Linked DNA regions of Homo sapiens: all the other regions are reported to be linked to region 2. The links are microRNA targets in miRTarBase. Many come from high-throughput screens and were not tested one by one. Region 2 holds a microRNA gene; each other region holds the end of a gene's coding sequence.
What was found. The annotated mature microRNA hsa-miR-7-5p reads UGGAAGACUAGUGAUUUUGUUGUU and lies in region 2 at 3,248-3,271, opposite strand. An mRNA with a match to its seed (bases 2 to 7 or 8) in the 3' UTR can be bound and repressed. Matches are read on the target gene's strand: a 7mer-m8 pairs with bases 2 to 8, a 7mer-A1 pairs with bases 2 to 7 and ends in A, and an 8mer does both.

Region 1 (7,532 bases), not on the chromosome of region 2:
CTACCACTGAGTGGTTTTGGACAAGCCATTTGCTCTCTTGTCTATCCCCAAAATGGCGATAGTAACATCTGATTATTGTGACCTAAATGACTGATACAAAGTACCTAAAACGATGCTTGGTACATAGTAAGTGCTCAATATACAGCAGCTGCTATTAATAAAAGGAAGTCCAAATTCCACAAATCCAATTATAAAGAAAGCTTTCAACATCTCTTTTAGGAAATAAAGGCTTTGCAAATCTACAATCTAATCACATGTACTCTTCTAAAGAAAAACAATCATACCAAGAATAGGAATTTGCCAAAAAAGATGTAAGCAATACCAAATATTTTTAAAACCAAATTTTACGGTAACACAAAACAGAAATGGTGCCAAAAACCCCAGACCCTGGCCTGTTTAATAAATCTCTCTCCTATAAAGATGACATACTTATGGGATTACCATTTACACTAATAACAATTTAAAGGGCAGACACTGCTCACCTGCCAAGAAATGATTCTTTCAGGTTTTCCATCTTGAGTTGCGTCTGTGTGGTGTGACAGAGCACAGCACTGAGTGAGGGAGGACACTTCTGCTCACCCCCAGCCTCTGCCATCACCAAGCAGTGCGATTCTGAGCAAGCCGTCCTCTCCGGTACTCTGTCAAATGAGTTGTCTACAGTTTCCACAACTCCTTCCAGCTCTAAAACTCTACCACTATGAAGAATTTACAGTTCAATGTGTGTAATACTGGTGTGAGGAAGATGTATTACTTACATATCAGGTACCTTAACAACCTGAAATAGCATGCTGAATATCACAGTTGTTTTTTTTTGTGTGTGGTGGGGGGGACGGAGGATGAATCATACATTATATGGGTATACTTGTAATACTAAGATAAAAGCTACATTTTCACTGAGAAGGAAGTGTGAGACTAACCTAATACTTGGGGTCATAAAGTTGCACAGTACACACCATTTTCAAAGGTCCAACTACTGTTAGCAAATGCCAGTTTCTCAGTGGCTTCAAACATGTTTCAACTGGACCTATATTGGCAATGATGGTGGTGAATTTGGCTTAGTTTTATATACCATCATCACTCATTAACTTAATGAGGTAATATGTGGAGAAACAAATATTGCTGTTTTTATAGGTTTCTGCAAAGGCTGTTACCTACCTCTTTGACCTCCTATATTCAATGCTGTCTTTCTGCAAAGGCTGTTGCCTACCTCTTTGACCTCCTATATTCAATGCTGTCTACTACTCTGAGCTGCAAACTGAGAGACACCTCACAGCCACACAGGTTCTCACACAGCTTTCATCCAGTGGCAGAGCCGGGCAAACCTGGAAGCACATGTAAGGACCCCCCAACCCAGATTTCAGGGCTGAGGAAGCCCCTAGGGGAACTGGCATCTAGACTAAGGCCTGTAACGGTGACAACACACTACACATGCTGCACTCTGTTGATCCAGGGCATTGTCTCTGGTCAGTCAGGGTACTCTCCACTGTACTCCCCTCACACCGAGTTTACCTCTAACTATGGTGAACAAAAGTTGTGGCGCGCTGTAGACAGTCTGTTTTATCTGTTGTCTGGCATAACTATTAATAGTGCCCCCTTACATGCTCGAAAGTGCTTTGGTTAAGACCATCAATTATAGGGTTACCCTACCTTTAGACCTGATCCTGGCAGACTCCAGCTTGCTTGTTTGGCTCTCCCATGTGACTCAGCTTACTGGGGGCCGGGGGTCAATCTTATTCTCCTGTGTATCCATGGCATGGGCTGTATGTCATTCACATTTGTATCCATGACAGCCTTGTGCCTGATGCCAAACAGACTGAGCAACATAGGTTTTCAATATGATATTCAAAATTAGAATGAGAAGCAAATACAATTAACAACAAATTAGATCTGCAAATCATTATATCATGTTGGGATTCTGGATTTACCTTTCACTAGCTGTGCGACCTTCTGATTCTTAGGTTTTCACCTGTAAAATGGGGATAATAGTACCTTCTTCATAAAGTAGAGAAGTTTAAATGAGACACTATAGGTAAAGTGTTTTGCACATAGCTGGCATATATTGAGCACCGTTAACAGCAGCTGCCGCTGTGGACAATGATGACTGCTGCTGCCACAACCCTGTTTTGGTGTGAGAAAACTGACACCTAACAAGCATCCAGTAGAAACTCAGTAAGTGTGCACTAAAGGAATGCTTGGTCTCATGCTAGGTGCTGGCTTCACATCAGAATCTTGGGTTACGAGATGCATTAATCAAAATTACAATTTAGAAGTCAAAAGTTTTGACTCCTCTAAGTCCAGCTTTCATAACAATTCAAAAAAACCTCCTCATATCCATAAGAAGCATAGAACACAGCAGCACTATCTGGCTGCATCCTTAGATGTGTACCAACATTTAAACTTCACCTTTGTTATAACTATACTCTTACTCATATAAGAATGCCAACTTGGATATTTGGGTCCATCTCTTCTCTTTTTGAACTGTCAACCTCTCAAGTTGTATGTGATTAATGTATATAGAGAAAAGTAGAAAGGCCTCAGATTGAGTCAACAGTTTTCTTGATCCCTCAATTACAATATCCTCTTTAAAGTATATCCTTGTTGAACATTTGGAATGAATTAAGACTTTAAACTTCCAGATGTTTAAACTACTACTGTAAATTCAAACTCATTAAAAAGGAGCAGATTTACTACCTCTACATAGTTTTGAAGTCTGTTGTTCACCCTGTCCAAATAATTTATGAAACTAAATACAGTGGCAGGTAGTGTATTCTATTTACATAGTATTCATGGTGAGAAATAAGGGGCATTTTAAAAAGGTCTGGAAATTAACTGCCATTTGGCCAACCTATAGATCACACTTATTGTTACTTCTAAGCTAGGAATTGTTTCCTGAAACTGATCTTGTGGATATTTTTATGCTAATCTGTACTAAAAATTACTTTACTTTTTCTGGCCACAAAAAGCTGGCTACAGAGAAGCATTTGATTATGGCAAGACAGCTGCATCCACTCTCATGAAATAAATGGACCTGGATCTAGTCCTCTGTGGTAATGTCTTGGCAGCCAAACAAAGGTGGCAGCATTTCTACACCCAGTTTGTAAAGTCTCAGAAGTTTCAGGCTCCATTTTTTTTTTCTTTGCAAGAAACCCATGTCGACTATAATGAGTGCATTTTAGAGATGCTGTGCTGAAAGCTGGCAATGGATAAAGCAAGAACATAAAAGGAACCTATTCCTAAAGCAAATATTCCTTTTACAAACCTTAAGAATGAAGTGGCTTTCACAATCAATTTTAATATCGAAGCACTGGACTGAAGTACCTGCCTCTGGCACTTACTTGCCATTTAATTTGAGGCAATTAATTCATCTCTGTGAACATGATTTCTCAACTGATAAAAGGGGGTTAATACCTGTCTGAATTTTTCTGAGAACTTGAATGAGATCAAAGTGCTTTGTAAGCTCTAAAGTAACACTGCAAGTACAATTTTCCTGTTTTATGACTTACTTAAAATAGCACTTAAAAGTGGCTGCCCCTATCAAACAGAAATAAACCTGATCCAACTAAGTTACTGCAGAGGAACTGGTCTCAGAAGGAAGGCTCTTTCAACCCAACCAACTACTACTTACTTCGCAGGAATTATTCTAAGAATTAACTGAAAATTACATAGAATTATTAATAAAGTGTTTGTTCCCACTTACCTCACAGGTCACACATCCTACATCAGGCTTCAACTGTGTAACTTTTTTTTTCCAAAAAAAAGAGATATGTCAAAAGCAAAAATTCCTCTGATTAGATATGCTAAATCTTGAATGTCTTTCCTAGTACATTTGCAAACTATTTAGATATGATACAGATCTTATTTTTAAAAAACTGTACGAGGCTTTTGTGGATACTCTGTATGTTATTTTCCTTTCCTTTAATTTCAATAAATCGGATTTACTGAAGTCTATGAAGTTTGTGTGTGTGTAGTTATAAGTACGTACAATTGCATGTACTTATGGGCCAACTGTGGGCCAACTCTAGTCTGTAAGCTTGGTGAGTCAGAAAATGCACTGGGTATTGCCAGCACTTAGCCAAGGAGCCTGGCACACAGTAAGCATTCAACTTATATTTGTGGAATGGTCATGACACCTACCACTTTCTAAATTATCTCATCTTGCAAAAGACAACCTGTTTCATCAGTGCACTGATTCAACCTACCATCAAAGATCAGTTTGTTGAAAACATCTTTTAATAAATTAGGTTTTTAAGCTTTCAGTAGACTCCCAAATTAGAGAATATACATACATTATAAAAACAAATGATGGGCATCTTTAACTAATGCTTGTTGCATGAATGTTTTTGGATACATTATTGTGGCAGACTGAAAAGGGGGCCATTATTTTGTAGCTCCTCCCAACAAAAGGAGTCTATTTCCTCCTCCTTCGAATCTAGACTGGCCAAGTGACTTGCTTTGACTAAAAGAATGTGGTGAAAGTGATGCTCTGAATTACTGAGTCCAGGCTTTGAAGCCACTGCCTTTGCTTTCCTGGTACTCTTGAGACCACCATTACATAGCGCAAGATAAAAGACCACATGGAGAGGCCCAGTCATCATATTCAGTCCCCAGTCACCCTCCCAGCTGAATGCAGACAGCCCAGATGAGACTAGGAGAAGAACCACTCAACCAACCCACAGAACTGTGAGAAATGGTAAAGTATTTCTTTAAACCATTAAATTTGGGGGGAATGTTAAGCAGCAATAGGTCACCGATGATAAATTAATTAACCCTCATAGCACAACCTTAAGGTAGGTTGTACAGCTGAGGAAACTGACCCAGGTTAAGTAATCTGTCAAGGTCACACCACTCTTTTTTTCCGCCCCACACCACTCTTAAGCTCCCTAAGAACAGGATGAATGTATTGAAACACCAGCTTTGTGTTTCCTTCATTGTCATCCTGCCATCATGAACTTGATCAGTTCTTTCTGCCAAGGACAGAGACATCTCTTAGAGCCCTGGCTATAAGATAAACTCTTGTTATCTTTTTGATAAGCCGCATGCATAATGTGTCCTGATTTGACACATCTGTGGGCTTTCCTAGGACAGAGAAATGGACTGTGGGCTATCATTCTCAGCAGTTCAGCAAATACACACCACTCTGGTTTCTGAAGCTCAAGTAACACTTACTCCCAACATAAAATAATTCATTAACACCTCTGCATTCATTTTAGCCAGCAACAATAAGACAAACTCTGACAATTTACATCAGGGCCCACACAGTACATTTAAAAAAAAAAAAAAACCTAGTTGGGTGAATCTTACATTTAACACTTTCTTAATTGTTTTTTTTCTGTAACCCAAGTAGTAAACCACATACAAAAGACTCACCTTGAATTGTGAAGCTGTTTATCAAATGTTTAAGAGAATTTACACAAGAATGTTTTGACCCCACAAAAAATAATGTGCCTAAGCTTTAAACAAAATTCACATTTTATTTAGATTGAAATAAACTATACAAAATTGATTTTCTTCACCAAAAATAACAGCAATATTTTCCATATTTTTCTAGATAAACCACAACACTTATTTTGTAGGTTTTCCAGGTTTTGCTTATAAATCAAGATGAGGCAGTATATAAGAGTCATGGAAAAAGACAGAGAAAAAAAACAGACAAATCAGTTGTCAGTATCCATGGCCTCTGATTCTGTCTCAACCATGAAACAGAAGTGTTCAACATATACCTGCTAAAAAGCTTAGGAAGATGTAGGCTCCACAAAGGAATGTAAACAGCAACGAGATGTGGAACAACAGCAGGCTTTTCCATTCAAACTTTGTCATTTGTTTCTTTAAGTTCAAGAAAGACAAAATCTACACTGAAATCCTTGTTTGGTGAGCTCACAAGCTTTTCTCCGGTAATTTCTTGTAACTGTCCAGTATAGATTTTTAACATACTTAAAACTCCTATTAGTCAAAGGTCAATTGTGGGCTTCACTACAACATTTTATAAAATGTATTCCTTCCTCCCACACCTCTTCAAAATATATTTCTTCAAAGAATTCATAACACCCAACAAGTAGAGATCCACAGTGATAATAAATGCTATGTCTAAAATGACTTAACTGAAACAATTCCAGAGTGCCATCAACAGAGATCACGCAAAAGGAAACATGGCACTTTCAACGTTCTCTTCTGGAAGAACAGGTAGGTCTTCAAAGCTTGAGAGTTCAAACAGGGGCCATTTAAACAGGTAGATTATCAATGGCTAATGTATTCAATGGAGTCCTATAGGCAAAGATATTTAGTGATTAAGTGGTCTACATACACCTTACGGCTTTTTCTTCCAAATATCAAATATAAGAAAGCCTATTTTTAAAAGTCTCTTAGGTATTTTCCACAGTTTCGGAATTATCTGTAGGAAGCTCTGACTTACTTGTATAGAGTTTAATATATGTGTCCACCATTAAATCCAGGTCGTGTTTTATATCAAAATTTATGTTAAGCAAAGCCAAGTTACTTGACCTTTGGTCTGTCAAAGTGTTCCTCAAATATGCTTTAAGACGCTTTCGTCCATTTTCATACCGCTCATTCTCAACCTTCATCACAGGAAGAATACACAGGACCTTCAGCAATGCATACACATTAGGAAAAAACTTGATGTCAGGCAGGTGGAGGGCTTCATAGATGGTGGACGGAAGCTCTATATCTTTCCCCCTGTGTTTCCATTTGATTCTCCAACAATGAAGCTCAGCTGACAGCGTGTCAGGATTGGGTAAGTCACTTCTATACATGTCAGCATGGTGTTCCTCCGACGTATTGAATTTGAGTTGTCCCATGACTGAGGGTACCAGAGATAAGCATTTAAGAGCTTTGAGGTGCTGTTCTGAGAATATATCTTTAAGTTCCTGAATAATGTGCTCCACTGTTGGGACACTTAGGGTTTCTTTATAGTAACTCTCAGAGGTTAGCTGAGATTCCAAGTTACCCTGGTGAGCTCTGCGGAATTTCCCAGGGAGTTTCATTTGAATATCAAGTTTGGTTGCCAAATTTGTGGCTTCCTCAAACCAAAATTCATGATAAACTTCAATATTTTCCATCACTTCGTTGAGTGAATGCAGTACTGCAGTCAAGCTACCGGCCGCAAAGAAGACATCAGAGGTTTGCCCCTGGAGGTTTTTCCCAAAGGCTCTTGTAAAAGATAGGACATTTTTAAGAACAACAATAGTAACAATGAAATCAAAATCTGACACTGCACTGCAGAGTACAAATGCTCGGCCAGCTATATAGTTATTCCATCTAATATTTGTGTCACTATTTATACCATCTAAACATAAAACAAGTGCTTGCAGGAGTTCCACTAAAATTTCAAAAGCATCATGCCTGCCTGTCCACTGAGAATGGCAGATTTCCTTCAGTTCTTTACCCCTTTCTTTACTGTTCTGAAAAAGAACAGAAATTACGTTGTCAAGTTCTAAAAGCAGTTGTGGTGATCGATGGAAAAAAGAACAAACTTCCTCAATTGTTCCTAATGCAACAGATACTCCCATAACAGGTAC
Region 2 (7,532 bases):
TTTGGGAGGCCGAGGTGGGCGGATCACGAGGTCAGCAGATCGAGACCATCTGGCTAGCACAGTGAAACCCTTTCTCTACTAAAAATACAAAAAAATTTGGCCGGGCGTGGTGGCGGGCGCCTGTAGTCCCAGCTGTTCGGGAGGCTGAGGCGGTAGAATGGCGTGAACCCGAGATCGCGCCACTGCACTCCAGCCTGGGCGACAGAGCGAGACTCCATCTCACAAAACAAAACAAAACAACAACAACAACAACAACAAAAAAGCACCACAGACGCTTGGGTCACACCCCACCCCAAGATTCTGATTTAACTGGTCTGGGGTGGGGCCTGAACAGGAAGGTTTTTAAATCTCCCCAGGTGTTAGTAGTTTGTCGCTGAGACTGACAATTGCCGCTAAAGTGGAGTTACCTAAAGCTTCCAGCAGAGGACGCTGCCTCTCTGCTCATCCAGGGAAACGTGAGCCGGGAAACCTGACAGCTGCAGTTGCGATGGGTGGGGCTGGAAATCAGGCTGTTTCGTAAACCCGGTTGATGCAGTTAAGGCGACGGGCCAGATGCCGTGACCCTTGTATCGCCGAGGTTTTTGTGTTGAGACTCCAATAAAGTTACCTTAAAAAGTAGTAAGTTAGGGCCAGGCGCTGTGACTTACGCTGTAATTTCAGCATTTGGGGAAGCCAAGGTGGTAGGATCACCTGAGCCCAGGAGTTTAAGACCAGCCTGAGCAACACAGGGAGACTCCGTCTCTACAAAAAATACTGTAATTAGCCAGGGTGTGGTGGTGGGTGTCTGTAGTCTCATCTGATCGGGAGGCTGAGGGAGGAGAATTGCTTGAGCCCAGGAGGTTGGGGTTGCATTGAGCCGAGATCACACCACTGCACTCTAGACTGGGTGACAAAGCCAGACCCCATTTCAATAAATAAATAAATAAATAAAAACAGTAGTAAATTGTCTATTTTGCTGAGTGACCAAGAGATAAGTCACAACCTCTGCAGGCCCTGATTTCAGCATTTTTAAAGTGGGGAGGGACTTGGTCTATATTCATTCTTTCAATATATATTGAGTCCCCTGAAATGGGCAAGATACTGATCTGGAAGGGGAAGGATACATATTTAAATAGGATTAAATTCCTACATGATAGGGGAGACTAATAGAAAGATGGTGGTTTCCATTTTTTCCTATTTCAGGATGGCAGATTTGTGGGTGCACAAGGCTGGTGAAGAGGACAACCATGAAAACTATGAAAGAAAAGGCAGAAGAGACCAATATTGGGTATATACCCATGCTATTTTATATTATGACACTTCACTTGCCTACTTATCGTAATAACCTAGCAAGGTAGATGTGATCAATTCTGTTTCACAGTTGAGGAATCTGAGACTCAGAGATGTTAAGTGACTGACTCAAAGTCACACAGCTCGTAAGCAGTGGAGCCAAGATTGAAACTGGCACATGTTTGACTTCAGAGCCAGGACTCCCCCCACCACTTAACAAAGGCTGTCATATCCATCCCTCAAATCAGGAATGCACCCCACATCCCCCCCCGAGATGCTTGTTTCACTGAGACACAATCTCTCCCCGTTCCATCTCCAAACCAGCCCCAGAGGCTGAGGGCTGCCCAGGAGAGACTCAACTCCCCTCCTCTCCTGTTCTCCAGCTCTGCCCTTCCTGCCCAATCTGGGCTTCTCTCCCGCTGTGAAGGACAGATACCTGCTGAGTGACACCAATTTGCAGACTTCTGAAGTGTAAATGAGATTTCTAATAGGACTGGCTTCCCACTGGCTTCAGGCAGGGTTAGGAGTAAAGGGAAATTTAAGACTGGAAGTGCAGAAGAAGAGAGCCAGTTTGTAGGATAGGGAGCAGCAGAAGCAGAGGCAGCCAAAGTCTCTGGGTAGAAGTGAAGGGCTGACTTGGTTCAGAGAGGTCAAGTGCCTTGCCAGAGGTCACACAGCTAGCAACCGGAAGAGGTAGAATGAGCTCAGCTAATGGTTGCATTTTTAGCATTCCCTAAATGAGTACGATCCCCAACCCCCAACTTTAGTTTGTAATATGCTTTAGTCTCCTCTGCTGTATGGATGGAGGAGGGTGGGAATATACTTAGGAATAGGGAGGGCATTTGGATTTGTTGCTTGAAAATTAATCTCCACTGAAAGTGTCATCACTGTAACTTGGTGCTCACCTTAGGGCAAGGTACCCCCCAGGCAGAGGGATCCCAGGCAGAAAGGCTGGGAGGCCAGGCAAGGTGGCTGATGCCTATACTCCCAGCACTTTGGGAGACCGAGGTGGGCAGATCCCCTGACGTCACGAGTTCGAGACCAGCCTGACCAACATAGCAAACCCCTCTCTCTACCAAAAATACAAAAAATTAGCTGAGTTGGTGGCATTCACCTGTAATCCCAGCTAGTCGGGAGGCTGAGGCACAAGAATCACTTGAACCCAGGAGGTGGAGGTTGCAGTGAGTCAGGACTGTACCACTGCACTCCAGCCTGGGACAGAGTGAGACTCTGTCTCAAAAATAAATAAATAAATAAATAAATAAATAAATAAATAAATAAATAAAAGGCTGGGAAATGCTTTTTCTGATCACTAATTCTAATTGTATTCCTGCCACAGTGGGGGATGGTCCCCAAGCACTGGGCTTTTTTCCCTTGGCCACACCTCTGGATGTAGCAGCACAGAGGCAGGTACTGGGACCAAGAAATTCCATACACACAAGTCCACTCCCTCAGCTGTGGAGCAGGCACCAGACAAGCTCCGAGGTCAGGTGTGTCCCCCCTGCTGCCAGGTACACTGAACATCCGGGAACCTCGGTCTCCAGTGCATACCTCTCGGTGCCCGCATACACTGTGGCTGTCGGGCCACAGACAATGAGGCCCTGAGCCCCAGGATGTGGAGTCACAAGGTGCCTCCATTATAGGTGCCCCAAAGTGATTGTTGGGGGAATTAGTAATTAAGGAGGGTTTTTCTCCCCCTGCCCTTCAGGTAGTGGTATGGAAGCAGTCCACTGCTCCCTGAAAACAGAGACCCTGCCCCACTTCCCTGCTCACACCATAGTTTGTCCATGTTTCTGGAAGAGTCTGCCGATGGGTGTTTAGGGTGGTGACCTGAGATGTTTTCTAGGAAACACAAAAGATACAAAAAAGAACACGTGGAAGGATAGCCAAAAAGGGGGGCTGCCCCCATTTCCTGCACCCCGCTGCGATGGCTGGCACCATTAGGTAGACTGGGATTTGTTGTTGAGCGCAGTAAGACAACAACAAAATCACTAGTCTTCCAGATGGGGCCAGCCGGTCCACTCTGTATCCAGGCCAGTTCTGCAAGGCGTTCGAGGACCACCCCCCTCCCCTCGCCACCAGGTCAGCGGTCTGGATGCTCCTTCAGGCGAGGCGTTGTCTCCGCTCCTATTACTAAGTTCATCTTTGAACACCTCTCCTCACCTCAGAATTCCCTGGAGAAATTATTTTTTCTTACTTTTCCCTTTTTTCTGGAGTGTTCTACTTTCTATAATGGACACAGTTGTTTTGTTTTGTTTTGGTGAGACAGGGTCTTGCTCTGTCACCCAGGCTGTAGTGCAGTGGTGCAATCACAGCTCACTCCAGCTTCAACCTTCCAGACTCGAGTGTTCAAGTGATTCTTCCACCTCAGCCTCCCTAGTAGCTGAGACTACAGCTAATTTTTTTTTTTTTTTTTTTTTTTTTAGTAAAGACAAGGTCTCAGTATATTGCCCAGGCTGGTCTTGAACTCCTGGGCTCAAGTGATCCTCCTGCCTCAGCCTCTCAAAGTGCTGGGATTATAGACGTGAGCCACTGCACCCAATTTGAGCATATTTCCTTTACAAACAGGGGAATTATTTTTAAAGAGAAGCAGGCAAGTGGCTCATTTCTCTCTTTCCTTTACTAATCATAAAGCATTGAACCACCATGCAGAAGAGAAACTAGAGCTTGGAAATGGTGACCCCTCTCTACTGGTGCCTCCCCCTTCTGGAAGCCTATGGGCATGGCCCATGGTGAAAATTCTTCCTGTGGTTACTGAGCCCTGGAAGCTTCAGAATGAAGTCAGAGTGGTGGTGCTGGGGTAAGCAGAGCAGGAAGAGGAAAAGGGGAAATGGTTGTGGACAGGAGGCTGGTGGAATCCTGGCCCAGTCATCCCCTCCCTGCAGGCACAGCGCTGGGCTCCCTGGTTAATTTCCCTTGCAGTGTGGCACTGGTGGAGGAGAGGCAAAGCCCCTGCTGCCTGGGCCAGCCTCTAATTGCGCTGGCAGGACACATCCGCTCCTTAATTAGCAAAAGCCACAATATCCTGGCGGCTCAGAGAGCATGGCCCTAATTGTATTTCTGCAGCAACTGAAGGATAATTACCCTTCCCTATTGGTGCTGCTTTTAATTCTTTCTCTTTTTAATTGTGAGCACTTCCTCTTTAGCCCACCCTTCCATCCTTGGGTTTATTCTCTCTATCCAGAATGGGGGTGGGGGCTTGCCTGGTGATGGAGACGCTCAGGAGCAGGAGGAGTGGGGGGAGTCATGGAGAAGACTGGCAATACCTAGCTCTGAGTCCCAGCCCCTTCCAGCTGTCAGCCTGAGACAGGGCACATCTCTGCCATGGGTCTGAGAAAAACCAAGAAGTTCTTTTGTGGAAGATGTAAGGGAGAGGTGTTCCTCCCCCAGAGGCTCTTTATGACCCTCTTCAGTCTACCCCGCAGTGAGGTGCTGGCTCTGAAATTCCCAGCTGTAGAAAACTGAGACCTCCTTTCCCCATCCTTTAATCTATCAAGAAACAGAGATGGATGTGTGGTCTTTAATTTCTTTTACAAAAAAAAAAAAAAAATAGCCCCGTGCCTCTTTGCCACTGTTGAGAGGAGGGTTAGTCCTTCAACCTTGAATTGTTTTAGAGACAAGGACCTGAGGGTACCATTAGAGAACAATGCTAACTAAGGTAACCCCTTGGTTAATAGGAGAGCTTAGCACCCTAGGTATTTCTAGGAAAAACAGGCCTTTCTTAGGGACCTGGCAAATAAACTTTGAGAAGTAATAGACAAGCTAAAATGCACCACAAAGAGAGTTTGGAGAGAACCACAGCATCTCTCTGGATGTCAGCTTGCAGGACTGACTGATCTAGCTTACATGAGCAACCCTGGCCCTAAAGCCACCACCCAAACCACTGCCCTGCTAGAAGCTCACTATGAGAGCAGGGACTCTCACTCATTATTCTTCCAAGTGCCTCGCGCACAGCCTGGCCCGTGATAAATGAAACTGGTTGGCAAAGAAGCAGAGTTCAGAGACAGAGTAGGATTGTGAGGTGTGAACAGGGTAAATCCATTTTCATTGGCTTTTTCCTTACAGATCCAATGAAGATGAATTTGAACTGATTGTGGCCCTAGTTTTCAAAATTCTTTAATTCTGGGCTCTATCTGAATTGGGAGAAGATGCAAGCAATAAAAGAGGCTGCTGTAGTCTCAAAGAAATATATTTTGAAAAAATGACCTGCCCTTGAGCCCACCAACTTCCACTCCCCACTTCTAATTTCTTTCCTCTGAATTTAGAGCTGTTCCCTTAGCAACGCTTGTTTCCATGGTTTCCTCCATGACAATGATCCCAAACCCCTCCTCTCTTTTACCTCATGACAGTAATGGATGATGGGGATCCTCAATGTGGCCACTCCATGTTACCATGGTAACAATTAACTGAGCCTTAATTTATCTTTTGTGAAGAGGGCTAGGGAATATGAAGCTTTTGATTTGGAGGGGGAGGGTCCAGGTCTAGAGCTACCATTCTCATAAAGAAGAAGATAAGCTATTTGTCTTAATACTAGCCAGTAGGATTTAGTTCAAACATTTGTTCAGCCCTACTTTAAGCACAACTGAGTTTGAGGGAATCAAAGGGGTACAAGACATAGCTCCTAATATTGAAGGGCTAATAGTCTAGCACTAGGGCTCATGGTACCGCTGAACTCTGGCACAGATGGGGCCAATAAAGAATATGGCTCTTGATAGCACCGTGATGATCAGGCATCTATCCATTCCCAGTATCCCCTCCTGCCAAGAACCAAAAAAAGACTGACTGAAGTGGTCTGTACTCACATTAAGACTTCTTCCGGGCTGTTATCAGAGAGTTTCTGTCCTGAAAGGGAAAGAACTTTGACTTCCCCTCTTTTAGGGAAGTGGGGACCAATGCCAGCATCCCTGAGTAGGACTATTTGGTGCAGGAAAAAAGAGAAAAATAAACAGACCTGCCCATTGCCAGTGCAACAAAGGACTGGGATAATCTCCAGTTCCAGGATAACCATCACCTACCTGCAACAAGTCTTCCTGGGAAGCGATGAGTCAGCTCTTACATTGAATTAAAGAGTCATTGTCTCCATCCATTCAGCTTTTCTATTTGTCACTGAAAATTCAGGCCAAAAGCGCAGCTCTGAAGAATGAAAGTGGAAAAACAGACAAATAAAAATCAAAGTGAAGAGGACACCAAACACCAAACACAAAACACCAAAGCTGAGAGCTGAGTAGAGTGAATCCACAAGCTGAGATATCCATTCTGCATCACAAGCAATGCAGTTCTTCCGACTTCTAGCTTTCCATCTTCATCTCCAAAAGTTTTCACCAAATCTCTAATAATGAGGACCAATTATCTATTTTTAGGGGAAATCACAAAATTCTCTGGACCCTCAGTGTGCTGGTAACAATAACCTGCACTGACTTGGAAAGATGATCACAGTATCTCCTAAAATGAAGGGGGAAAAAAGCCATAGGACAATGTATAAGGCAGGTATGTTGAAGTAAGCTGCGAATAGGTAGGTAAAAAATGTCATCCTTGCAAGTCAGTGCAATCTGGATTAGCCAAAGTCAATTCCAGATCCTGAGTCCAGGACTCTGAGTTCTGTCCTTTGCTACTGGATGGAACTAAGGCAGATTCAATCCTTCTGTGTACCCTGCTCACTCAGCTAGTCAGAAAAGGATAAATGGCATCCTCTTATTGGTTGACAAGGCAATACACACCAACCAATGAAAGAATGCTTCTTCCTTTCCAGCCAATAAGAGCTCAGTTATCTTCTTGAAAGTAGACCCTTTGTCCATAAAGAAAATAAGCAGAAAGTGAATAATAATTAAAAAAAACCACACAACTGTTGCTATGGGACATTACTGATGTGATCAATGATAGCTGCCCCGGACAATTCATAAAGGAAAGCACTTCTTTGGGAAGAAAAGTACAAAAAGCAGACCAGCTGTCTGGTCTGGTCTAAAGGGAAGTTTCTATAGTAACATGGGAGAGAAAAGCATTTTAAAAGCATTTTAATGTAAATACCCGCAAAACTATCAAGTCAGTTCACCGAGCGAATTTTTGACCTTTTAAACTTATGCTGAAATTATAATGAATAAAAATTCTTATATTAATAATAAATGAAGGAAATGGAGAGAAAAGAAGAGAACAAGAGGAGAAAAGAAAAGACCTGTGTGTTTATGGTTCAGGGCATCACAGATAAAGATATCACAGTTCCTGCCTGAAACAGAAATGTTCTCCAACCCCGTGTTGTCAAGTAATAT
Region 3 (7,000 bases), not on the chromosome of region 2:
GGCCACCGCCCTCTTGTCTGCATGGCAGATGGGCACAGGGTGGAACAGGAAGAGGGCCTGAGCTTGGGCCCAGCTCCATCACTGCTCAGCTGTGTGTACACTTAGACTTGTGATGTCTCTGGACCTTGCTGTCTTAACCTGTGATGTGGCCATGATGCTGTCCAGTTTAACAGTGCCTTGCCCCCATCCACATTCCCTAGGTAAGTCTTCCCTATACCCGCTGCCCTGGGTCCAGCTGATCTGCCTTTGAGCTTCTGTCTTGTTGCTGTTGCAGGAGCCATGAGCACAGAGGGCCCCAGCCTCGCCAGCTCCCCAGCCATCAGCCCCCTCGCCTTTCTCTCAGCTCCCGTCACTCCCGGGACCCTTGCAGAGGCAACTGACCCCCTCCCCATGCTCATCGCCCTGGCCTGCATCTTCCTCCTGCTGGCCACCTGTCTGCTGTTCATGACGCTCTGCAAGCCGGCCGCGCTGGACCCGAGCCGCCGCAGGGCTCACGAGTGCATGCCCCACCACCCTGGGAGCCCCAGTGAGCCCCAGCTCCGGCTCTGGAAGCGCCTGGGCTCCTTGCGCCTCTCCCTGCACAGCTTCCGCCATGGCCGGCCCACCGTCCCTCGACAGCCCCTGCCGGGCCCCGAGGACAACCGCAGCCACTGTGACTACATGGAATCTACCAAGATGTAATGGGGTGTCCACAAACATGCCCCCACATCCCCCTAGGTCTACCTGTAGATCCTCCTGCTTCAGAGACCGGTGCTGCAGGCTGCAGGAAGACAGTGGCCCAAGCAGTCTGGGACACACACTCACCCCCCGAAGCTCCTTGCATGCCCAGGCCAGCGCCCTTTCCCAAAGATGATCCTCAGAAGAGCACCTTCCTCTCTGCAGACCCCCTCGCTGCTGCTTGATGAAAGACTTCTGGTCAAGAGATGTGCACTCGTGGTCATCTGGGCCTTTGGCCTGAGGCTCCACAGGGTACAACCTGGGGCTCGTAACCACCTCCTAGAAGCAGCACCCTCGCTCGCCACAGAAGCCTTGCCCTCCAGGTGCCAAAGCCCAGCATGGAGAAGTTGCCAAATGGCAAAGGTTCCCTTTAGTCAAGTGAAATGCTCAGCCTACACCGGGGCCAAGACACTGTCCTGGCATCTGTGCTGGCCCAGTGCTGGGGCAAAACCTCGGGGCTCTCTTCCTTGGGTTTCCCGGGTGCTGCCAGCATCTGCCTGGTGCCCTGTGGGAGCAGCTGCCTCCCTCCTGGTGGAACAGATGCCTGGGTGCCAGCTGGGAGGAGGAGCAAACAGGGCTCTCCAAGCATGGTCTTGGCAGCCGTCTTGGTGGCCCCTCTTCAGGGCACCCACGTTGGGATCAATCAGGAAGGGATTGAAGATGATCGAGGAGGCTCCCTTCAGAGGCCAGGGCGGGTGCTGTGACAGAGTGGCAAGAGGCAGGGCATTTCCAGCAGCTGGAGGTGATGCCACCTGGACTCGGAGGAGGACAGCTCACAGCAGCTCCACACCTCACCCAGGGAAAGCGGCAGCCTCCCCGAGGGTGGGATGGTCTGGACCTCTCCAGGACAGCTGTGGGGTCCCAAGTCCTGCCCACACTAGGGATGCTATCTGTGGTTTTGGTGAGTGCTTTGCTGATGACCCGTCAAAGCAGTCCCACCCCAGGATGGGCTTCTCAGAATCCCAAACCCTTGACCTCTCCTCACAACGCGAGGGTTAAACACTTTGGTCAGGTCCCAAATTTGAAGGGTGGGCAGAGGGAGGACCTGGGCTGCCCAGCTCCTGTCCCAGTCAGCTGGCCAGGATCCCACCACAAAGCTGCCCCACCCCCATCCTGCTGTGACCCACAGTGCAGCCAGCCACGTCTCCCCAAGGAGTGAGCTCTGGCTTGCCACTCCCCAGCTCCAAAACCTTCACTGGCTCCCTAATGCCAAATGGATATAGCCAAAGCTCCTCAGCGCAGTGTGCAGTGCCCTCTGGGAGCTGGCTCCAATTAATCTTTCTAGCCTCATCTTGATCCAAAACTCCAGGAAAACTGAAAGACCTGTCACCCACTAACTGTGGCTTATGCTTCACACACACCCACTCTGTGAAGCCCTCCTGCCTGGAGCCGCCCCTACTGTCTCCTACCTCTCTTGGGGAGGAAAAGGAACATTCTCTTGGCAGCATGGGTCCTTTTTGTCTATGTCTTCTCTTTCCTACCAGCTTGGGAGCTTGCAGAGAGCCAGACATTGTCCAGCCCCTCACTTTGACTCCCCAGTTCTGTGCACAGAAGTATGAGGCTTCTGTGTACAGAGTGAAGCGTGGCCCAGCCTGGGTGTGTCCCCACCCTCTGAGGCAGGAGTCTTGGTGGAAGCTGGCATAACACAGAGCCTCATCTTCCCTCAGATGACTCTAGAAAGATTTCTCTCCAAGCAGGCTCTATTGGAGAAGCCCACTGTCCCTTCCTTCCAAGTCAATCTGATCTCAAAAAGTGAGTCCGGCTTCACAAGAAACTTACCAAGAGGACCTTGGAGAAGTCATCCTGAGACGCTGCATTTCTCCCTGAGAAATGGGAGAACTCAGGGCTGCCCTATATTAACTCGCTGGCTCTAGGATTTCAGTAAGAGTAGTATTGTGTAAATAGAAACCAAGTCTTTGGGTTTAGAAAGTGGGGCAGGCCTCCTCCCTAAGGGTTTTGTTCCTTCCTCCCTTCCTGCTCAGTAACCTCTTCCTGGTTTGCTTCCCCTGGGGCCTCCCTGCAAATCCTAGGCTGGATTCAGCCTGTAGCCATCCACCTCACCAGCAGGCCCTGCTGGCCACTAGGCACTGTCTTCCTGGAGGTTGGGGTGGGGGTTGAGGCTGCCCTGAGGCCTGAAGAAGGAAAAGTCCAGGAGGGGGAGGGCTCTCAATTGGGTTTCAGGCACCAGGCCAGGGGGGTATGCTCCAAGTCCTCACAAGCTGAGGCCCTGATCGAGAGAACCCTCTACTTCCTCCTTCTGGAGCTAGCCACCACACTCTCGCAAATCCTCAGGGCTTTCTGGGCTCTCTGTGTTTCTGGGAGTCAGCTCCCTGCTCCCCAGCCCTTTCCTGCCCGCCTCCTGGTCCCGATGCAGGGAGGGGAGCATTGCCAGCCTCCCACGCTTCTGTCCCTCCCAAGCCCGGGAGCCTGCCCCAGTGGGCAGGCCCAGATTCCCTGTTTGGCTCAGCCTCCGAGTCGGAAACCCCATAGTTGGTAAAGAGACTCATTCACTCCGGGCCTCCCTCCCCACCCAGCAACTGAGGCCTCTGGGCAGAGGTGTGGGTGCACACCCAAATTGTTTTCAGGGTCCTCCCTTCTCTCCCTCTGAGCCTTGGAGCTGTTGCGCCTGCTCCCTGGGCAAAGGAGCCCTTTCTTCTTGTGCCTGTTTACTTCCCAAGAGGGGAGCCTCGGCCAAGGGCTCTGTGAAAGCAGCTCTGTTCTGGGCCTTGCTGGGCCCTGGCTCTCTTCTCAACTCCTTTCCGGGAAATTGTGACGTCTCTTTCTCCCCGCTACTCTGAAAGGCCCTTCTGGGTGGGGCGGGAGATATGCAGGGGGAGGCCAAGTCTTCCTCCTGTTTGTGGGGAGCCAGAGCCCTATCCTCAGCTCTGCAACCTGGGGGCCCACACTCCCTGGGATGGGAGAGGGCCTGGGTCCCCCTTTCCCCACAGCACCTTCCAGAGCAGCGGACCCACCCTGGGCCCCCACCTGCTTCCGCCTCTGGTGCCACTGAGCATGTGCCCTCAGGGCCGTGTGTGGCTCCGCCTCCCCCAGCCCACCACCTGCCCCAGAGGCCACGGGCCACCTGCCTGCAAGATGCTGTGGCCTTCAGGGATGTCCTCAGGGACGCTGGCCTCATAGCTGCTCTGCAGAAAGATGGGCCGGTTGTCATTCACATCCAGGACAGTGACGAACACGGTGGCTGTGCCCGTGTGTCGCTTCCCTACAGGGCCGTTGTCTGTGGGAGTTGAAGGAAGACAGGTGTTAGCAGCTGCCTGAGAGAGGGGCACACTTCCTGTGACTTTGCACACTCCCGGGCACCGGCCAGAGAGGTGCCCTGTTCCGCCCCATCTGCCCTAGCCTTTGCAAGGGGTGACTTCCTTTTTAGCTTAGGAATAACACTAACAGTATCAAATACTTAGATAACACCATGTGCCAGCCATTCTTCTAACCCATTCAGTCCTCACAGCAACCCCATGAAGCAGACACTTTACTGTCATCCCCATTTTACAGAGGAGGTAACTGAGGCACTCAAGTGGATTGAATGATGGCTCCCAAAAAAAACAGACCCATGTTAAACCCCTGGGAACCTGTGAAGATTAATTTATTTGGGAAAAGGGCCTTTGAAAATGTAATTACGTTAAGGATCTTGAGAAGTGATCATCCTGGGTGAGCTGGGTGGCCCATAAACCCAATGGCAAGTGTCCTTACAAGAGAAAGGCAGAGGGACATTTGAGACAGAGAGGAGGAGGCCACATGCAGATGGAGGCAGAGGCTGGAGTTATGCTGCCACAAGCCACCGAATGCCTAGCGACTCCAGAAACTGGGACGGTCAAGGACTGATTCTCTCTAGAGCCTTTGGAGGAAGCGTGACCCTGCCGACACCTTAATTTCTAACTTCTGGCCTTGAGAACCAGGAGAGAATACACTTCTGCTGTTTTAAGTTTGTGGTAGTTTGTCGTGGCAAATTTAGGATGCAGATACAGGTACTAAGAGCAAAAAGCCAACTGCTGTCAGGGACTGGCGGGTATAGCACCTGGGTCAAACACCTGGATGGGCCCCGCTGGAAGGGCAGCTGTCCTCCACTCCAGTCCACAGCGGACAGGCAGAATGTGGGCCCAGAGACACCAGATCTTCTGATTTCTCATGAGAAATTGAACATCTGAGCTTTTAAATAAAATCTCCTGATCTTTAAACTTTCACAACTAATGGTCATTCTTTATAAAATATTGGATAGGTCAAACAAACGTCCCCTCTGCATTCAGGAACACGGGCTTTGCTTGGGATCTAAGCTTAAGGTCCCCGGAGACTCTGTCCCTCCAGTTCCCACAGGACCCTCCCAGGGCTGGGAGGTGGTGAGGATGGGGCACTGACTCAGCCCCAGGCAGCTCTTGGGTTGTCCTCCCTGGAGGAAGGAGCTTGTAACCAGCGCTGCATGTCCAGGCAAGAGTGGTCACCCCAGGGGGTGGTGCAGGCAGCTGGAGTAGCCTGGAGACCTAGGGTGACGCCATCCTTCTTCCCCAGGCCAGCTGACCATACGTGGCAGTGCTGTCGCTCACTGGAGGTAGGTCTTCTCACCCTCCAAAGCTCCTCTCCAGACCAGCCTCCCACCACCCTTGGGGGTTGGCTTATTGCTCTGGCTGGGATTGGTGTGTGTGTGGGAGGCTCCCTAGAAGGCTGGCAGAAGCCCTCTCCTCCTGCCAGGCAATGCCCAAAGTGAGGGCTGGACTCAGGGGTGATAACAAGTCTCCAGAGGGTGGGCAGCCATTCCAGGAGGGGAGGAGAGCAGGGCAGAGGGCAGAGGCATCTGGGCATGGGCGGGCTGGGAAGGGATTGATGGTTGGAAAGAGTGAGGCCCAGAGAATTCATTCCCTTCTTACTCAGCTCACTGCAAACTTCCTGGGAGGACCAGGAGCACCCGGCGGCACAGGTCTCATCATACCACTCTTCCCCTCTGGGGCCCTCAAGGGCTCCCTGCTGCCCAGAGACCAAAGACCAAACTTCTTGGCCAATGTTTAGGCCTCCACACATGGCCCTACCTGATCACAGCCTCCCCTTCCCCAGTGTGGGCCACTCCATGGGCCAGCTGCGGTGCATGCACGCATGCTTGTGCACACAAGGCACTTTCCCACCTCCAGGCCCTTGCATGGGCTGGTGCCTCTGCCTGAAGTGCCCTCCCTGCTTCTTCATGTACTGAAACCTTATGTGGCCTCCAAGGCTGCAGTGGGCACCCCTTGTTTCTGTCCATCAGCACTGCCCTGTGCTCCCCTGGGAAGGCCATGTCCTGAATGTCCCCCTGTGGACCCTCCCTTCCAGGCTTTGAGGCCTGGGATGCTGGGTAGGTGGGACTGCCCCCAGCTCCCTGCACATCCTAGGCTGGATTCAGCCTGTAGCCATCCACCTCACCAGCAGGCCCTGCTGGCCACTAGGCACTGTCTTCCTGGAGGTTGGGGTGGGGGGTGAGGCTGCCCTGAGGCCTGAAGAAGGAAAAGCCCAGGAGCAGGAGGGCCCAGGATGGGCATGTGACTTAGGCTTAAGTAACCAGCACATCTCACTTCCCTGGCTACAGTGAGGGGCTCAGGAATGGGCACTGGGGCAGAATGGATCTATCTAGAGCTGATCTGAGGGCTTCTGCCAGGGAGGGGAAAGAGACAAGTGCTGTCTTCCATGCCGCTGCACTTGAACCTGAGAATGTGTACAGGTGAGGCTGGGGCAACGACCTGCCACCATGTGAGTTGAAGAATAAAGCCAACTGATATGGTTTGGCTTTGCGTCCCCACCCAGATCTCATCTTGAATTGTATTCCCATAATTTCCACATGTTGTGGGAGGGAGCCAGCGGGAGATCATTGAATCATGGGGGCATTTTCTCCTACACTGTTCTCGTGGTAGTAAATAAGTCTCATGAGATCTGATGGTTTTATCAGGGGTTTCTACTTTTGCGTCTTCCTCATTCTCTCTTTGCGTGCTACCATCCATGTAAGACAGGACTTGCTCCTCCTTGCCTTCTGCCATGATTGTGAGTTCCACGTGGCCTCCCCAGCCACGTGGAACTGTAAGTCCCATTAAACCCTTTTTCCTGTATAAATTACCCAGTCTCGGATATGTCTTTATCAGCAGCGTGAAAACAGACTAATACATCAACACACAGGAGGCAGCGCCAGCCAGTGCAGAGACTGAAGCCTGAGGTGTCACCTGAGCCCTGAATCCAGTCATACTGGGAGTTACATCTCCCAGTGGACTGGTTTTGTGAGCCCATATTGCTGAAGTCAGTTTATTTTATTTTA
Region 4 (7,462 bases), not on the chromosome of region 2:
GTTCCAGGAGAACTCAGCCTGCAGGTGACAAGGACAATGTATTCCCCTCCCTTGGGAAACCTTCCAGCCCTCCTTGGGTGCAGGTCATGGTAGATGGGCCTCATTCCTCAAGGCATGTGCTGAGGGAGACTGGGGGCAGGTACCAGGTGTCCTTACTGCAGAGAAAGGGAGGCTGCTCATCTCCCCAACTCTGCTGTAATGGGAACAGTGTGACTGTGAGTCACTGGGGACTAGTCCTTAGGGAAGCCATGAGAAGGACAGCTTGCCCCTCTGGCCTTTCTCCCTGCTTCTTTATCAGCAGCTTCAGCACCTGCCACCTGAGAAGATGGAAAGGAAGGAGCTGCCCCCAGAGCATCAGTCCTTGAAGAGCAGCTTTGAGGCGCTTCTCCAACGCTGCTCCCTGTCTGCAACTGACTTAGTAAGTCTGAACCTTCTTCACAGTGCCCTCCTCGCACCCCTCGCTGGCTCCAGGACCCCTCAGCTGTGGACCAGTTCCTTGTGTGACTCTCTTCTCACTGCCCCTGGACATGCTGTCTCTATCTTGTACTTAATTGACGTCCATGTGGAGCTGGGGAGAGACTTTTGAGTCTGGTCTGAAGTCCAGCTCCTTGGTGGTAGGACCCAGCAGCATTGAGACCTAAAGGCAGCAGGGGTACTGGAAGGAGGGTGGAGCCAGGAGTGAGGAAGTCTGCCATTCCCCTGCTGGCTGTGTCGGCTTGAGCAAGTCACTTACCCTTCTTGGGCCTTCATTCCCTCCTCTGTGAAATGAAGCCATTCTAGCTCTAATATGCTGTGATTTTTTTTTTTTTTTTTTTTTGAGATGGAGTCTCGCTTTGTCGCCCAGGCTGGAGTGCAGTGGCGCGATCTCGGCTCACTGCAAGCTCTGCCTCCCGGGTTCAAGCCATTCTCCCGCCTCAGCCTCCCGAGTAGCTGGGACTACAGGTGCCCACCTCCATACCCGGCTAATTTTTTGTATTTTTAATGGAGACGGGGTTTCACCGTGTCAGCCAGGATGGTCTCCATCTCCTGACCTCATGATCCACCCGCCTTGGCCTCCCAAGGTGCTGGGATTACAGGCGTGAGCCACCATGCCCGGCCTAATATGCTGTGATTCTTTATGGCCCTGTGTGGTGTTAGACTTAGGGGCTGGGGTTGGAATCCATTTCTTTCCCTGCAGAAGACAAAAAGGAAGCTGGAAGAGGCAGCCCAGCGTCTGGAGTATCTATATGAGAAGCTCTGTGAGGGGACAGTAAGTACAGCTAGCTGTGCTCCCACTGCCTCCTACACTTCCACCATCACCATGGCCAAAGGAAGCCCAGTGTCTTTTCTTCCCATAGGTGTCACTGACCTGGGTTCCCCACAAAATACGTGCATCTTGCCTGGACTGGGCCCCAGAACTTAAGTCTTCCCTTATCCCTTCCATGCTGCCAGGGTAGGAGCTGGGTTGGGCTCACTAACCTAAGGGTCATTCCCTCCACAGCTCTCACCTCATGTCGTGGCTGGGCTCCATGAGGTTGCCCGATGTGTGGATGCAGGAAGCTTTGAGCAGGGCCTTGCAGTGCATGCCCAGGTGGCGGGCTGTAGCAGCTTCAGCGAGGTGTCCAGCTTCATGCCTATCCTGAAGGCTGTCCTCATCATCGCTCATAAGCTGCTGGTCTAAACCAGGCAGCCTCTCTTGCTAGGAGGCCACTTCTGCTGTTACATAACTCCTCCCTGCAGAAGAGGGGACTTCTGCAACAGATTCTGTTTCTTTTTCCCGACTCTTTTCCTTGCTGCCAGGTATGTGATGCTGTAGGCTTGGCTCCAAACCAGCTGAGTGCCTGCTTTTTACTCCTTTATGTCTGGCCTTCTAGGATCTGTCCAAGACACTCTCAGGCCTGGAGGCAGGGCATAGAATCAGTTCTTCACTCTCCCTAATACTACACTCTGTAAGGACCTGGGGCAGGATATCTTCTCCCCCAGGGATCTTCTATTTAAGTGGCTTCTGAGAGGGTGAACAGGATTGTTACTTTTAAGCCTACCTCTGCTGTGACCCATCATGTGGGTCTTTTGTTTCTCCCTTCTGTGGTTTATGAGCCTGCCCTTACCTTTTCCCTGCCTCTGACTTGGTATTTCCAGGTCCGTATTTCTCTGTAGCCCAGGGTCTGGGGTAGAGCTGACTGCTGTTCACCCTTTGAACAACTCATGGACGTGAGGGATGGGTGCTGAGCAGAACCAAGAGAGGAAACTTTGGCGCTGTTAAAATGGAATTTCTCATCTGCCGGCATTATTAAGGGTGGGCTAGGTTGGATGGAAGGTGAAAGGGATGAACTGCCTTTTGCTGGAAGCTGTCTTAGGCTGTGAGACAGGAGCAGGGGAACCACAGCCTATGGGGAACTGCCCTTGACTCCACCTATGTTGGAGCCTTAGCCCAAGGCCATTCCTTCTGTGATGATAAAGCCCAGTTCTGGAATTGGAGCCATATTAAGGAATGATTCTCTTCCAGCGCTGCTCCTCAAGGGTTGGGGGTCCTTCTCCCTCGCAGCCACCACATGTCTCAGGGCTACCTTCTCCGATTGGATTTGCATTTGTGGCACTGTCTTTGATGCAGTGATGTACTTAATGGTGCAATAAAGCTGCTTCGATTTGGTTTCCTCTGTCATCTCCCAGTCATTGCCTCCTCTGGGTTCTATTTTGCCATTACCTTTCTAGTCCTCTTTATTCTTGCTTCCTGCACCCTAGTAAGGCAGGGGAGAGGCTTAGGGAGAGATAAATCAAGAAAGTTAAAGGAAGGTGTCCATTCCCACTGAATTAGGTTCTCTCCTTGCAGCATTTGTGGTCACTCTGCTGGGTGTGTTGAGGGTGGGGGGATTGTCTCCCTTCATCCGTGCCTGGTGTTCAGTTCCAGGGTTTTCCCTACCCCACTTCAGGGCTGAGCTCAGCTATACAAAGGGACTGGGTGTGAAGCCAGGGGATGCTAGCCCTAATCCTGTTGTAGATCCCATCATGTCTGCGGGCTAGATGTGTGTGTGTTTGGGAGGGAGGGATTGTTAGGCAGTATTTGTTTGTAAAGCCACTTGCTCTTCAGATAATACTTGCACTAACTTCTATTGATGAAGCAGTGTGAGCCCTAGCAAAGTCCTTTCCCAAAGTGTCTTTGAAGCCAAGAGCCCATTGAAGGGAAGAAAGGCCGGGAGAGGGGATTAGTTTGTTCAGCAGCTGTGAATTTCAGTGGGAGGTTGATGAACTCCGAAGTCTTTGTTTAAATTAAAGTGGGGGAGAAAAAAGCCGCTGCTGGAGCGAGAGCCCCACTTGGGGCCCTGAACTAACACAAGGAGAAGTCTGAGCTGCAGGGAGCTGTGTACTGACTGCGAAGACTTTTCCCAAACACTTTCGGAAAAGGTGTTGTGAGAAGACAAGGGGGCGGAGTGGCGGATTAGCATGTGAAATGAAGTTTTCATTGACTCCAGTGGGGGTAGAAGGCTATTTTAATGGCATTTTGTTCTCCTATTTTCTCTTCTTGAGCTCTTTAGAGATATTGTTTTGCTAAGACAGGCTTTCTTCCCCCTTCTTTCCAGTCTGAGGATTGCCTCTATGGGAGCCAACATAAATATTTCTCCTCCAGGAATGCGGGTTAATTAAAAGGAAATGAATGAGTGGAAGCATCCAATCCAGACCTACAATAGGCGAGTGCCCTGGCCTGCCCTCCCCTCCCACCACCGCCAGCACCACCAGCGCCGAAGACGACCCCGTCTCTGTCTTTGCCCTAACCTGCTGCTAAGGCCAGTTGAGGCTGCGATTCTTTTCAAAAAGAAAAAGCTCTGCCTGTGTTTAGGCTCACAGGCCAGGGACAGGAAGGAGACAGTGTTTTGCCCACCCCAACCAATGTCCTTGTCACTTCTCAGGGCCTCCCTCTGTTTCTGTCTTCTGGCTGAGACAGATGGGCTCCTGAAGAGCACACAAGAGGTGGAAGGGGCCTGTGCTCTGCACTCTCCCCACAGTAACTTACTAGTTGGGGGAAGAAGCCAGTCATCTTTCTCAGCATCAGTTTAAATCTGTAACACAAAAGGTTTGACTGGCTGACCTCAAAGATGTCTTCCCAAGCACCAGTTCTGGAGTTGTCTACTTTGTAAAGGGACCACGGCCCTGGCAATTGAGTGTAAGATGAGAACTTAAACTCCGTGATGCAGCAATGGTGGTTGTTCACCACTATCTCTACTCTGGTGTTTGTTGAATGAACAAATGAACAAGTGGATATTGCAAAAGGAAGGGAAAAGCAATACAGATCCAAGGCATCTCAGTCATGTTTTCTTGGTAGAACTGGAATGAATCTGGTATCCATTTGGGGGTATAAAACAATAACCTATGAAATAATGTTCTGGCGGCATGACGTATTTAGAGTGCTGACCTGGAGTTACCAAATATGAAGCACAATAGTTCTGCTTTTATGCTAAGAGACCTGGAGAATGTAGCTTTACTTTACAACATTGTGCTTTTAAATTTTCTAGCTGCCTTGCCAAACTTTCTTCGTGTACATTATAAAGTAATTCTGCAAAGTGGGACAGGTAGGTTAGTATATGCTGCTTCTTGATTAAGGAGAAAAGGTGAGTTGGGAGATTCAGGAGGTTCAGATAAAAGCAGAGGGAAGGCGTGAAGGGCCTTTTGCTGAGAAAGCTGGAAATGAAGCACTAAGAACACCTGAAAGGAAGTGTATCCCCGGTCAGGAAGGGGAAACTCTCTCCTCAGTAAGTGTTGGTAAGACCAGAAGGTGTGTGGGTGAGGCCAAGGGTTTGGGATCTGACCTGGCCATTGCCTTAGTTTGGAATACGGGAACCCTTGACTCTTACAGGTGAACCCCTAGAGTCTTGGCTTTTGTTGCCTGGAGCCAGCCACACTGCTTTTCCTACTCTGGGAGAGGAAGGTTGAGGTCGTCTAGCATCTGACCAGTTCTGCTCTAGAAGAGCTGCCCAGCCCCAGACCTGGGACTGTCCTAGGGCAAGGAAGCTGGCTGGGAAGCCCCTTGGGCTACAGAGGGTCTGTCAGGGATTGGTTCTTCCCTCCCCAAGGTCTTGCTCTGTTTCATAAACAAGTCCCTGCTGTACTCTCTGAGAATAAAACCAGAAGACTCAAGTACCACAAGCAGCAAGCTCATGGCTCTTGAGTGAATGTATTAGAAGATTTAAATAGATGATTTACTAATCCTTGGCAGCTTAGCCTCAATCCAGATAACTGCTTGGGCCACCAGGGAAGTGAGGCTTTAGGGAGGATGGTATCCTGCCAAGATGGGAGGGAGGAGAGAGCCTACAGGTTGTATCTGTTACCACAGCCCACCCGAATATCCTCAAGAATAAGTGCAGTACCTAGAAAAAGAGCACATATCACAATGACTGCAATAAATTAAGGTTCAAGGTGCTGAACTTCCTACTAAGCAACAGTTTCATTGCAGGAAGTTTACTCATTGAAGGAAGATATCCAGTGCTCTGAATCCTGCCTGTTTGAGAACCAGGTTAGTGAGAAGGAAGGGTCTCAGTTTCTCCTTCTTAGGACCTGCCTCTAGAGGTGCAGACCAGGATCTGAAGAGGAAAGTGGCTTTATTTACCTCAGTCTTGGCTCAGAGGAACAAAGATCCTTTGGAGAAGAAGAGGTAAAGTTGGTTGCTAGGAGGAAGTAGGTCAGGAGAAGGGAGAAGTTACCTTTAAAGGGTAGGAAATGACTGTAATCTGCCCTTAACGTATTTCCTAGACCTTCGGGGTATGTATCTGGAGTCCCTCGGGTTATTGTCTAGGAAAGTCATTGCCCCACTAGTAAAGTCCATTCATGATATGATACCATAGGGATGAGTAGCACCCTTGGTGTTCAAGTTAGCACTCCAGAGCTCCCTCTTCCATCTTCAACCTCTGCCTCTAGGAACCAACCCCAAAGACATGCTTTTCCGGGGCCAGTTTCCTCAGTTTTTCTGGGAAAGGAAAGGGAGAAGAGGAGAGAAAGCATTCAAGATTCCTGGGGAATCTGGCTCAGCAGGTAGCAGGGGAGGAGCTGTGCAGAAGAGAGGTGCAGCAGTGGGTGAGCCCTGGTAGCAGACAGTGGGCAAAAGGGCAAAGCTTTGACTTTACCTGGGTCCTGCGTGTCTGAGAAGGGTTCTTCCAGCGCCTAAGGCTTGATAGGCTAGGTCAGACATTAGGGCTGCTAGGAGAGGGGAGGAGGAACACCTGTTCTCCTAATCCAAGGAAGATCAGTAACTCAAAGCCTGAGTTCTCAGACCTAGGTGTGGCTGCGAGGATTCAGACAGAGCTCTAGGAGAGCACAGAGGAATTGGGGAAACAGGCTGGAAAGTGGCAAGCTTTGGAGAAATTGCAGTCTCTCCCTCTCAGGATCCCTAGGTCTGGGAGAGCGGGTTCCCCATTCCCTAGGTTCCACAATTACCGGGGTCTCTAAAGGAAGCCAAGAACCAGTGGGAAAAGGAGGGGGCAGAGGAAACCCTTAGGGTTTTCTCCCGGGTTTGTGCGCAGCGCCCCCCCGCGGCCGCTCTGCGCGGCTACAGAAGTACTTGGTGACCCTCCGGCGGCACTGCTCGCAGCGGACTGCGCAGCACCAGTGGAACTTGCAGTTGCAGCTGGACACGGTCTCGGCCCGGCGCTCCTCCACCGCCAGCCCGCAGTCCCCGCAGAGCCGGCGGCAGCTGCGGCGTTCCCAGCGACCCAGGGCCCGCCCGCGCCTTAGGCACTCTCGGCCTTCGGTGCCCAGCAGCCCTAGCGTTTTGTTCTCCAGGCAGTAGTCCGGGGAGTCCTCCAGGTGCACCAGCTCCCGGGTAGAGATGGAGCGAAAGGTGTCGGCGATGGCGCCGCGGCCGGCCGCGCTGTTGCCAGCACCCTGCAGCAGGTCCACCTTGAGTGCTGCGTGGTACTTCTCCTTCAGGTGCGCGCCCACCTCGCGGAACTCGGGCAGCTGCAGCCAACAGGTCTGCGTGGTGCAGCTGCCAGACACGCCGTGGCACTTGCACGTGCGTTTCATGGTGCCCTTCACCGCCTGGGGAGAGAGCTAGGAGTGAGAGGCCCCGGATTAAGCGCGTGGCGAGTTTAACTGCCCCTGTGGGAGTTGCGAGAAGTCTAGTTAGTCTACTGGGCCAGCCCACTTGGTACCTCATTTTGCCAATCTTTTAAATGAACTGAAGAGTTGTCCGCACCTGGAGCTGGTAGTGGATATAGCCAGCAGCTGCCTATTTCCAAGGGCTGCGGGACTCACCTTGCGGCCAGCCTCGTTGTTGTGCAGGTTCATGGCTGCCCGTGCATCCTGTCCTGTTTCCAGGGCATCGACAAACTGCTTGGAAATCGCCTCTCCGAAGCCCACATTGTCACTGCAGCCTCCCCACAGCCAGCCTTGTCCCCCTGGAAAAGTGCAGAGGGAGGACAGGTCATTGAGCAAGCGGGCGCAGAGCCTCCTGGGCTGCTGTTTCTAATTGGGTTGGGGGTGGGGGGGTCCAGGA

Region 1: miRTarBase lists THAP12 as a target of hsa-miR-7-5p. Seed matches in the 3' UTR shown: 7mer-A1 at 6,170-6,176.
Region 3: the mRNA of C10orf105 is a reported target of hsa-miR-7-5p. Seed matches in the 3' UTR shown: 7mer-m8 at 2,807-2,813 and 7mer-m8 at 3,560-3,566.
Region 4: miRTarBase lists WNT8B as a target of hsa-miR-7-5p. The part of its 3' UTR that is shown has no 7-base or 8-base seed match.

Annotation. Positions count from the first base shown.
Region 1 is chr11:76,344,505-76,352,036 of GRCh38, forward strand. THAP12 (THAP domain containing 12) reads right to left here. Exons shown (of 5, transcript NM_004705.4): 5 at 5,452-7,532. The coding sequence ends at 6,360. Among named protein-coding and RNA genes, the nearest start is that of THAP12, 33 kb to the right of the region's middle.
Region 2 is chr15:88,607,595-88,615,126 of GRCh38, reverse strand. It overlaps MIR7-2 (microRNA 7-2), which reads right to left and starts at 3,302; the gene lies at 3,193-3,302. MIR1179 (microRNA 1179) reads right to left here and starts at 7,020; the gene lies at 6,930-7,020. It overlaps MIR3529 (microRNA 3529), which reads left to right and starts at 3,203; the gene lies at 3,203-3,280. It also overlaps a transcript of AEN not described here. RefSeq lists an enhancer at 1,409-2,093.
Region 3 is chr10:71,709,617-71,716,616 of GRCh38, reverse strand. It overlaps C10orf105 (chromosome 10 open reading frame 105), which reads left to right. Exons shown (of 2, transcript NM_001164375.3): 2 at 275-4,916. The coding sequence starts at 280. The coding sequence ends at 681. It overlaps CDH23 (cadherin related 23), which reads right to left. Exons shown (of 70, transcript NM_022124.6): 28 at 3,804-3,952. Among named protein-coding and RNA genes, the nearest start is that of C10orf105, 6.7 kb to the left of the region's middle.
Region 4 is chr10:100,481,814-100,489,275 of GRCh38, reverse strand. WNT8B (Wnt family member 8B) reads right to left here. Exons shown (of 6, transcript NM_003393.4): 5 at 7,222-7,364; 6 at 5,532-7,005. The coding sequence ends at 6,460. SEC31B (SEC31 homolog B, COPII component) reads left to right here. Exons shown (of 26, transcript NM_015490.4): 23 at 1-24; 24 at 302-418; 25 at 1,178-1,249; 26 at 1,481-2,629. The coding sequence ends at 1,660. Among named protein-coding and RNA genes, the nearest start is that of WNT8B, 23 kb to the right of the region's middle. RefSeq lists enhancers at 2,764-3,539, 2,699-4,191, 3,540-4,316, 6,337-6,992.